Regions from separate parts of the Homo sapiens genome. Here region 1 is linked to region 2. Evidence: fine-mapped expression QTL. A gene starts in region 2. The other region holds a variant in brackets. All regions are shown on one strand. Distances are between the middles of the regions. Region 1 has its middle 36 kb from the start of ADGRL1. Region 2 holds the start of SAMD1 (sterile alpha motif domain containing 1).

Evidence for each region. PIP is the estimated chance that this variant, and not a neighbour inherited with it, causes the effect.
Region 1: its variant is fine-mapped to the expression of SAMD1 in monocytes (Quach 2016, PIP 0.95).

What each region holds. Positions count from the first base shown.
Region 1 is chr19:14,239,865-14,245,226 of GRCh38, reverse strand. No RefSeq gene overlaps it. Among named protein-coding and RNA genes, the nearest start is that of ADGRL1, 36 kb to the right of the region's middle. The variant A/TA (reference allele first, on the strand shown) is at 2,171.
Region 2 is chr19:14,087,653-14,093,014 of GRCh38, reverse strand. It overlaps SAMD1 (sterile alpha motif domain containing 1), which reads left to right and starts at 2,264. Exons shown (of 5, transcript NM_138352.3): 1 at 2,264-3,230; 2 at 3,653-3,947; 3 at 4,039-4,135; 4 at 4,233-4,344; 5 at 4,440-5,164. The coding sequence starts at 2,595. The coding sequence ends at 4,598. It overlaps PRKACA (protein kinase cAMP-activated catalytic subunit alpha), which reads left to right. Exons shown (of 10, transcript NM_002730.4): 10 at 1-1,327. RefSeq lists silencers at 1,529-1,858, 1,909-1,958, 2,099-2,318, 2,649-2,908, 3,209-3,258 and an enhancer at 3,903-4,412.

The DNA of each region.
Region 1 (5,362 bases), 150 kb before region 2:
GTCTTGGCCGGGCGTAGTGGCTCATGCCTGTAATCCCAACACTTTGGGAGGCCAAGGTGGGCAGATCACTGAGGTCAGGAGTTTGAGACCGCCTGGCCAACATGGTGAAACCCTGTCTCTACTAAAAATACAAAAACTTAGCTGGGCGTGGTGGCGTGTACCTGTAATCCCAGCTACTCGGGAGGCTAAGGCAGGAAAATCGCTTGAACCCAGGAGGCAGAGGTTGCAGTGAGCTGAGATCACACCACTGGACTCCAGCCTGGATGACAGAGTGAAACTCCATCTCAGGGGGAAAAAAAAAAGAATTTGCCTTGAAGGCTGGGTGCAGTGGCTCACGCCTGTAATCCCAACACTTTGGGAGGCCGAGGTGGGCAGATCTCCTGAGGTCAAGAGTTCAAGACCAGTCTGGTCAACATGGTGAAACTCCACCTCTACTAAAAATACAAAAATTAGCCGGGCATGGTGGTGTGCACCTGTAATCCCAGCTACTCATGAGGCTGAGACAGGAGAATTGCTTGAACCTGGGAGGCAGAGGTTGTAGTGAACCGAGATCGTGCCATTGCACTCCATCCTGGGCAACAAGAGCAAAACTTCATCTCAAAAAAAAAAAAGGAATAATTTGCCGTGAGTCTGTAGCATAGTGCTTAGTCCTTAGCGGGCACTCAATATACTTCATCCAGATTCAGAGGCAGGGAGAATTGTGGGAGACACAGTTTGTCAAATTCACACCTATCTCTTTCCTTTGCTAACACAGGGCTCCTTAAGTGTCAGTGTGCCCTGCCTAATCCTTGCCCTCCAGCCCCCCTTGCTTCTATTTTATTTATTTATGTGTTTATGTATTTTTTTTGTCTTCCAGCCCCTCTTCCAGCTCCCCTTGCCATTATTCCAGCCTTCAAGTCCCGCTTGCTTCTATTTTATTTATTTATTTATTTATTTATTTATTTTTGGGGACAGAGTCTCACTCTGTTACCCAGGCTGGAGGACAGTGGTGCAATCTCAGCTCACTGCAACCTCCGCCTCCCAGGTTCAAGCTACTCTCCTACCTCAGCCTCCCGAGTAGCTGGGATTACAGGCACCCACCACCATGCCCGGCTAATTTTTTGTATTTTTAGTAGAGACGGGGTTTCGTCATGTTGGCCAGGCTGATCTCAAACTCCTGACCTCAAGTGATCCGCCTACCTCAGCCTCCCAACTCCCTTCCTTCTAGAGATGGCTGTGTGACACTCTTCCGGCCAATAAGACTCCAGCAGAAGTCTTCTGGGTGGTTCCAGGAAGAATGAGCATGTTATTATCCAAGACTCAGTGGCTTCATCTATAAAATGGGGCTAAAAATTGCAACTTGCCTCAGGTCTCGAACTCCTGACCTCAAGTGATCCGCCCGCCTCAGCCTCCCAAAGTGCTGGGATTACGGGCGTGAGCCACTGCGCCCAGCCAATACGACCAGTGTCTTGGTAAGAAGAGAATAGACACAAGTACACGAGGGAGAGTCCATGTGATGGAGGAGGCAGAGACTGGATGATGCAGAGATTGGAGAGATGCATCATCTACAAGCCAAGGAGCACCCAGCATTGCTGGCCACCACCAATGCCCGCTGGCCAGGCAGGGGCAAGGAAGGAGTCTCCCTTGCAAGTTTCAGAGGGAACATGGTCCTGTCAACACCTTGATTCCAGGCTTCTGGCCTCCAGGTGTGGAAGAGAATAAATCTCTGTTGCTTTAAGCCACCCAATGGGTAGCACTTCCTTACAGCAGCCTGGGAGACTAACAAGGAGGGTTGAAAGCAGCAAGATTTCTTGCAAAGGCTCCTTCGGACTTCCAGGCTGTGTGACCTGCGGCAAGTCATTTACCCACTTTGGCATTTTTTTTTTTTTTTTTTTAGATGATGTCTCGCTCTGTCACCAGGCTGAAGTGCAGTGGCGCGATCTCGGCTCACTGCAACCTCCGACTACCTGGTTCAAGCGATTCTCCTGCCTCAGCCTCCCGAGTAGCTGGGATTACAGGCACACAACACCACACCCAGCTAATTTTTTATTTGTAGTAGAGACGGGGTTTCACCATGTTGGCCAGGATGGTCTCGATCTCCTGACCTGGTGATCCACCCACCTTGGCCTCCCAAAGTGCTGGGATTACAGGCATGAGCCACTGCGCCCGGCCTTTTTTTTTTTTTTTTTTT[A/TA]AGAGACAAGGCCTCATTCCGTCACCCAGGCTAACAATCTCCCAGGCTCAAGGAATCCTCCTGCCTCAGCCTCTGGAGTAGCTGAGACTACAGGTGTGTGCCACCACATCCAGCTAATTTTTTGTTATTTTTTAAGAGATTGGGTCTCGCTATGTTGCCCAAGCTGGTCTTGAAGCAATCCTCAAGCAATCCTCCCACTTTGGCCTGCTGAAATGGTGGGATTACAGGCATGAGCCACCATGCCCTGCCCCAGTCTGGCCTTTGTGTGTTTAGCTGGCTCAGAATACAAAGATGGGCCAGCTGTGGTGGCTTACGCCTATAATCTTAGCACTTTGGGGGGCCAAGGCAGGCGGATCACTTGAGGTCAGGAGTTCAAGACCAGCCTGGCCAACATGGTGAAACCCCGTCTCTACTAAAAATACAAAAATTAGCCAGGCATGGTGACAGGCACTTGTAATCTCATATACTCAGGAGGCTGAGGCAGGAGAATTGCCGGAAAGGCAGAGGTTGCAGTGAACCAACATCTCACCACTGCACTCCAGCCTGTACGACAGAGCAAGACTCTGTCTCAAAACAAACAACAATCCAAAAAAAAAAAAACAAAAACCAACAAAGACGAACAAAAAGAGTCCTTCCTGCCTTTCCAAATCTCTCCCAGGCAGAGTTAACACATCCCAGGTGCTCTTACACAGGGTTGAGTAGTTCCTGTGGATTTCAGTTGAGTGATACCTGCCTTGACTCCCCTGCTACGCTAGACCCTATCTCTGAGGACAAGAAATGGGCCTGTTCATCAGCGCAGCTGAGAAAGACCAAACCACCTTCTGTTCTCTTCTTTTCTTTTTTTTTTTTTGAGACGGAGTTTTGCTCTTGTTTCCCAGGCCGGAGTACAATGGCGCGATCTTGATTCACCACAACCTCTGCCTCCTGGGTTCAAGCGATTCTCCTGCCTCAGCCTCCTGAGTAGCTGGGATTACAGGCATGTGCCACCACGCCCGGCTAATTTTGTATTTTTAGTAGAAACAGGGTTTCTCCATGGTGGTCAGGCTGGTCTGAAACTCCTGACCTCTGGTGATCCGCCTGCCTGGCCTCCCAAAGTGCTAGGATTACAGGTGTGCGCCACCGTGCCCGGCCTTGAAGACCAAACCACCTTCTGGATAAAGCCAAGAGATGTAAACCTGCCAGGGTCTCTGGGCACTTGGAAACGCCCATCTGTTTGGAAGTGAGAGAATTAACACATTGGATGCATAAGCTGAATGTCAATGAAGACCCCAGGGCTGGTATAGAAACTGCGTGGGTTCAAATCCCAGCCCTGGGGTCAGCAGTAGCTCATGCCTGTAATCCCAGGACTTTAGGAGACTGAAGCGGGCAAGTCACTTGGGGTCAGGAGTTCAAGACCAGCCTGGCCAACATGGTGAAACCCCGTTTCTACTAAAAATACAAAAATCATTTGGGAGGCCGAGGTGGGCAGATCACAAGGTCACGAGATTGAGACCATCCTGGCCAACATGGTGAAACCCCCGTCTCTACTAAAATACAAAAAATTAGTCGGGTGTGGTGGCATGCGCCTATAGTCCCAGCTACTTGGGAAGCTGAGGCAGGAGAATTGCTTGAACCCAGGAGGCGGAGGTTGCAGTGGGCCAAGATCGCGCCACTGCACTCCAGCCTGGTGACAGAGCAAAACTCCATCTCAAAAAAAAAAAAAAAGAAAAAAAGCCAGGCGTGGTGGTTCATGCCTGTAATCTCAGCATTTTGGGAGCCAAGGCGGGCAGATCTCCTGAGGTTGGGAGTTCGAGACCAGGCTGACCAACATGGAGAAACCCTGTCTCTACTAAAAATATAAAAAATTAGCTGGGCATGTTGGCGCATGCCTGTAATCCCAGCTACTCGGGAGGCTGAGGCAGGAGAATCACAGGAACCTGGGAGGCGGAGGTTGCAGTGAGCCGAGATCGCGCCACTGCACTCCAGCCTGGGCAACAAGAGTGAAACTCTGACTCAAAACAAAAGAAAACAAACAAACAAAAAATCAGCCAGGCATGGTGGTGCACACCTGTAATCCCAGCTACTTGAGAGGCTGGGGCACGAGAATCGCTTGAACCCGGGAGGTGGAGGTTGCAGTGAGCTGAGATAGCACCACTGCACTCCAGCCTGGGTGACAGGGCAAGACTCCGTCTCAAACAACAAAAAAAACCTACAAATCCCAGCCCTGCCTGGCATTGACTGAGTCACCTTAGGTAAGTGGTTTTGCTGGTCTGTGCCTCTGTTTCTCTGGCTATAATATAGGTACAATGACAGTAGGGTCATTTCAAGGATTAAATGAGAAAAATGCCTGTTGGATACTCAGAGGTCAGGTACATACAGTAAGTGCTTAATGAGTGCTGGTCCCATGCATGAATGGAAGCACTGGGTGAGCATGTGCTTAAGGAAGAAGTGCAGGAGGCCGGATGCAGTGGCTCACGCCTGTAATCCCAGCACTTTAGGAGGTGGAGGTGGGAGGATCGCTTGAGGCTAGGGGTTCGAGACCACATCTTTACAAAAAATTTAAAATTAGGCCAGGCACAGTTGCTGACACCTGTAATCCCAACACTTTGGGAAGCTGAGGCAGGCAGATCACTTGAGGCCAGGAGTTCGAGACCAGCCTGGCCAACGTGGCAAAACCCCATCTCTACTAAAAATACAAAAATTAGCCATGTGGGGTGGTGCATACCTGTAATCCCAGCTACTTGGGAGGCTAAGCAGGAGAATCACTTGAACCCGGGAGATGGAGGTAACAGTGAGGCAAGATCACACCACTGTACTCACTGCCTGGGCGACACACTGCCTGGGCGACAGAGTGAGTGAGACTCCATTTCAAAAAAAAAAAAAATTAGCTGAGCACAGTGGCACGCACCTGTAGTTCCAGCTGCTGTGGAGGCTAAGGCAGGAGACTCATTTAAGCCCAGGAGGTTGAGGCTGCAGTAAGCTATGATTGCACCACTTCACTCCCTTCTGGGCAACAAAATGACACGCTGTCTCTAAAATAAAGAATTAAAAAGCCTACCTTGGCTGAGCAGATCCACCTGGATAGAGCTTGATAGGGAGGAGAGATCTTTGCTACAATTCAGATGACAGACAAGAATGACTTGTCCCAGGCTGGTGGCAGTGCAGGTGAGGAAGGCTCTATGGGCTCAGGGTGGGTTTTGGAGTTGGAGTGGA
Region 2 (5,362 bases):
GTTCCTTGCATCTAATTTCACCCCCACCCCACCCTCCAGGGTTAGGGGGAGCAGGAAGCCCAGATAATCAGAGGGACAGAAACACCAGCTGCTCCCCCTCATCCCCTTCACCCTCCTGCCCCCTCTCCCACTTTTCCCTTCCTCTTTCCCCACAGCCCCCCAGCCCCTCAGCCCTCCCAGCCCACTTCTGCCTGTTTTAAACGAGTTTCTCAACTCCAGTCAGACCAGGTCTTGCTGGTGTATCCAGGGACAGGGTATGGAAAGAGGGGCTCACGCTTAACTCCAGCCCCCACCCACACCCCCATCCCACCCAACCACAGGCCCCACTTGCTAAGGGCAAATGAACGAAGCGCCAACCTTCCTTTCGGAGTAATCCTGCCTGGGAAGGAGAGATTTTTAGTGACATGTTCAGTGGGTTGCTTGCTAGAATTTTTTTAAAAAAACAACAATTTAAAATCTTATTTAAGTTCCACCAGTGCCTCCCTCCCTCCTTCCTCTACTCCCACCCCTCCCATGTCCCCCCATTCCTCAAATCCATTTTAAAGAGAAGCAGACTGACTTTGGAAAGGGAGGCGCTGGGGTTTGAACCTCCCCGCTGCTAATCTCCCCTGGGCCCCTCCCCGGGGAATCCTCTCTGCCAATCCTGCGAGGGTCTAGGCCCCTTTAGGAAGCCTCCGCTCTCTTTTTCCCCAACAGACCTGTCTTCACCCTTGGGCTTTGAAAGCCAGACAAAGCAGCTGCCCCTCTCCCTGCCAAAGAGGAGTCATCCCCCAAAAAGACAGAGGGGGAGCCCCAAGCCCAAGTCTTTCCTCCCAGCAGCGTTTCCCCCCAACTCCTTAATTTTATTCTCCGCTAGATTTTAACGTCCAGCCTTCCCTCAGCTGAGTGGGGAGGGCATCCCTGCAAAAGGGAACAGAAGAGGCCAAGTCCCCCCAAGCCACGGCCCGGGGTTCAAGGCTAGAGCTGCTGGGGAGGGGCTGCCTGTTTTACTCACCCACCAGCTTCCGCCTCCCCCATCCTGGGCGCCCCTCCTCCAGCTTAGCTGTCAGCTGTCCATCACCTCTCCCCCACTTTCTCATTTGTGCTTTTTTCTCTCGTAATAGAAAAGTGGGGAGCCGCTGGGGAGCCACCCCATTCATCCCCGTATTTCCCCCTCTCATAACTTCTCCCCATCCCAGGAGGAGTTCTCAGGCCTGGGGTGGGGCCCCGGGTGGGTGCGGGGGCGATTCAACCTGTGTGCTGCGAAGGACGAGACTTCCTCTTGAACAGTGTGCTGTTGTAAACATATTTGAAAACTATTACCAATAAAGTTTTGTTTAAAAAAAAAGTGTCGCTGGTGTTCTCGACTTCGATCACCCACCCACACACCCCCAGGGGGTTGGAAAGGGAATTTCGGACCCCAGCGTGCAGGCCGATCAGGTCCTGGCTTGAAGTCCTTGTAACCAGGGTTTAGCTGAAATTCCGGCACTCCTTCGGCCCCGCAGGAGAAACGAGCGTCAAACTGCCCTTTGACCCCAGATTCGGGGTCCCCAAATCTGCGGCGCGCCCCCTCGGCGTCCAGCCCGGGACCGAGAGGGCGCTCTAGGGAGGCGCTGGGGCTGGCGCGCCAGGAGGCCGAGCGGCGGCGGGGGCGGCCCTGGCAGGGGGAGTAGAAGGGGGAGAGGGTGCGCGCCCCCCTTCCCGCATCCTCAGCGCCGGGCCAGGCGCGCCTGAGGGACGCGGGGGCGGCGGCAGCAGGAGGGTCCCCGCAGCACCCTGCGAGCGCGGCAGCCCCGGCCCGCGGGCGGCGAGTTCCCGGTAAGTGCGGTCCCGAGAGCGGAGCGCGCTGGAGAGGCGTGGAGAGGGGGGCTGGGCGCCGGGGACGTCTGGGTCCCGCGCCCAATGGCTGGAGGGCGGCCGAGCGCCGCCCGCCCGCCCTGCCCGCCCCCTCTCCACTCCCCCCGGCACTCCCCTCCCCCTCCCCCGCCCGCCGCTTTCCCCCGCCCCCGCCCCGGGCCAACTCCGCGGCGCCTCCTTAAAAAGCGCGCGGGAGTTGTAAGGGGGGGCCGGAGCGAGCCGGAGTGAGCGAGAGCGCAGGGTAAAGGGGGCGGGCGGGGGGCCCGGGCTCCACCTTAAAAGCGGGCGCGTGGGGGTGGGAGGGAGGAAGGCGGGCGGCGGGGAGGAGGGAGGGAGGGAAGGAAGGGGGGCCGGAGTGTCCCGGGCGCAGGGCGCGCGTGCGGCGGCGGCGGCGGCGGGGAGGGGCCGGCCGCGCCGCGCTCCCCTCCTCCCCCTCGCATCCCCGGCCCCGCGCGCGCCCAGCAGAAGCGGGTCTGTGTGTGCGTGCGTGCGAGTGAGTGAGTGTGTGCATATTTTTTTCTCTCTTTTCTTTCTCTCTCACTGTTTTTTCCTCTCTCTCTCTCTCCCTCTCTCTCTCTTTTTTTTTTTTTTTTTTTTGCAAAGAAACAGCAGCGCCGCCGCCGCTCCGCCGAGGCGCTGCGCCCCCCGGGGGGGGAGGCGGAGGAGGCGGGCAGCGGCGGAGGGAGGGGAGCCGGGGAGGGGGGCGCCGCGCTGGGAGGGAGGCAGCGCGCACGGTGCAGCCGGGCCGGGCGGGAGGCATGGCGGGGCCCCCGGCCCTACCCCCGCCGGAGACGGCGGCGGCCGCCACCACGGCGGCCGCCGCCTCGTCGTCCGCCGCTTCCCCGCACTACCAAGAGTGGATCCTGGACACCATCGACTCGCTGCGCTCGCGCAAGGCGCGGCCGGACCTGGAGCGCATCTGCCGGATGGTGCGGCGGCGGCACGGCCCGGAGCCGGAGCGCACGCGCGCCGAGCTCGAGAAACTGATCCAGCAGCGCGCCGTGCTCCGGGTCAGCTACAAGGGGAGCATCTCGTACCGCAACGCGGCGCGCGTCCAGCCGCCCCGGCGCGGAGCCACCCCGCCGGCCCCGCCGGCGCCGCCACAGCAGCAGCAGCCGCCGCCGCCGCAGCCACAGCCGCCGCCGGAGGGGGGCGCGGTGCGGGCCGGCGGCGCGGCGCGGCCCGTGAGCCTGCGGGAAGTCGTGCGCTACCTCGGGGGCAGCGGCGGCGCCGGCGGTCGCCTAACCCGCGGCCGCGTGCAGGGGCTGCTGGAGGAGGAGGCGGCGGCTCGAGGCCGTCTGGAGCGCACCCGTCTCGGAGCGCTTGCGCTGCCCCGCGGGGACAGGCCCGGACGGGCGCCGCCGGCCGCCAGCGCCCGCCCGTCTCGCAGCAAGGTGAGCGCGCCGGGGAGCGGGGGCGCCGCGCGGTGGGCAGGTGCGGGCGAAGTTGGTGGCGGGGGCGCGAGTCCCGGGAGGAACTGGGTGGCGGGTGGCTGGGGCTTTGCGCGCGTTTCCTGCGGGCTCGGTGCGTGGTGACCTTGGCAAGTGATTGAATCTCCCGGAGCCTCAGTTTCCTCCGCTGTAAACGCGGTTTAATAACAGTAGCGACCCCTTGGGGTTGTTGAGCGAGTTTAGTAAGATTTGGTTGTCGAGGGCTTTAGTTAACACAGAGCCTGGCACGGAGTGAATGCGTAAAAGTTAGTCCGTATTGTTCTTAAAGGTGGAATCGGTTCCTCCTCCCCACCGCCCGGACGCCACAGTCAGGGTCTGGGATTAGAACAGCTACTAATTTTGCATGCTTCTCTCCTCGGCTCCAGAGAGGTGGAGAAGAGCGAGTACTTGAGAAAGAAGAGGAAGAAGATGATGATGAAGATGAAGATGAAGAAGATGATGTGTCAGAGGGCTCTGAAGTGCCCGAGAGTGACCGTCCTGCAGGTGCCCAGCACCACCAGCTTAACGGCGAGCGGGGACCTCAGAGTGCCAAGGAGAGGGTCAAGGAGTGGACCCCCTGCGGACCGCACCAGGGCCAGGATGAAGGGCGGGGGCCAGCCCCGGGCAGCGGCACCCGCCAGGTGTTCTCCATGGCAGCCATGAACAAGGAAGGGGGAACAGGTAAGGATCCCTCTGGGTGGGGAAGAGTGCTAGGTGGAGAGGAACTCAGCCCGAAGACAAAGCCAAAGACAGGTGTTTTTTTCCTTCCCAGCTTCTGTTGCCACCGGGCCAGACTCCCCGTCCCCCGTGCCTTTGCCCCCAGGCAAACCAGCCCTACCTGGGGCCGACGGGACCCCCTTTGGCTGTCCGTAAGTTGGGGTATTGGAGACATGGGGGTGCTGCTCAGGTGTGTGGTACAGCCAGAGAGACATCCGTGTTCACTGGTGTCTGTTTGTTTTGATGCAGTCCCGGGCGCAAAGAGAAGCCATCTGATCCCGTCGAGTGGACCGTGATGGATGTCGTCGAATATTTTACTGAGGCTGGATTCCCGGAGCAGGCGACAGCTTTCCAAGAGCAGGTGAGTTTCCAGCCCAGGACTACACACTGACAGACACAGAGGGCCTCCCTGGGATGTGCCCTGATCCCGGCTCTCTCTGTTCCTGTCCCACCCAGGAAATTGATGGCAAATCTTTGCTGCTCATGCAGCGCACAGATGTGCTCACCGGCCTGTCCATCCGCCTCGGGCCAGCCCTGAAAATCTACGAGCACCACATCAAGGTGCTTCAGCAAGGCCACTTTGAGGATGATGACCCCGATGGCTTCTTAGGCTGAGCGCCCAGCCTCACCCCTGCCCCAGCCCATTCCGGCCCCCATCTCACCCAAGATCCCCCAGAGTCCAGGAGCTGGACGGGGACACCCTCAGCCCTCATAACAGATTCCAAGGAGAGGGCACCCTCTTGTCCTTATCTTTGCCCCTTGTGTCTGTCTCACACACATCTGCTCCTCAGCACGTCGGTGTGGGGAGGGGATTGCTCCTTAAACCCCAGGTGGCTGACCCTCCCCACCCAGTCCAGGACATTTTAGGAAAAAAAAAATGAAATGTGGGGGGCTTCTCATCTCCCCAAGATCCTCTTCCGTTCAGCCAGATGTTTCCTGTATAAATGTTTGGATCTGCCTGTTTATTTTGGTGGGTGGTCTTTCCTCCCTCCCCTACCACCCATGCCCCCCTTCTCAGTCTGCCCCTGGCCTCCAGCCCCTAGGGGACTAGCTGGGTTGGGGTTCCTCGGGCCTTTTCTCTCCTCCCTCTTTTCTTTCTGTTGATTGTCGCTCCAGCTGGCTGTATTGCTTTTTAATATTGCACCGAAGGTTTTTTAAATAAAATTTTAAAAAAAGAAAAAGGGAAAAAAAAGCCACGGAGTCCATTTTATGAATGGGGTGGGGAGAGGGCACTAAAGAGCCTCCTAAGAGAGCCTCAGGTTAGGACAGAATTGTTTGGGGAGGGAGAAAAACAGAAACAATGAATTATAGCTGCCTCACAGCCATGTATAACAATAATTGCTCCAGGAAGGTGGGAATATTTGCTTTTTTTTCTTCTG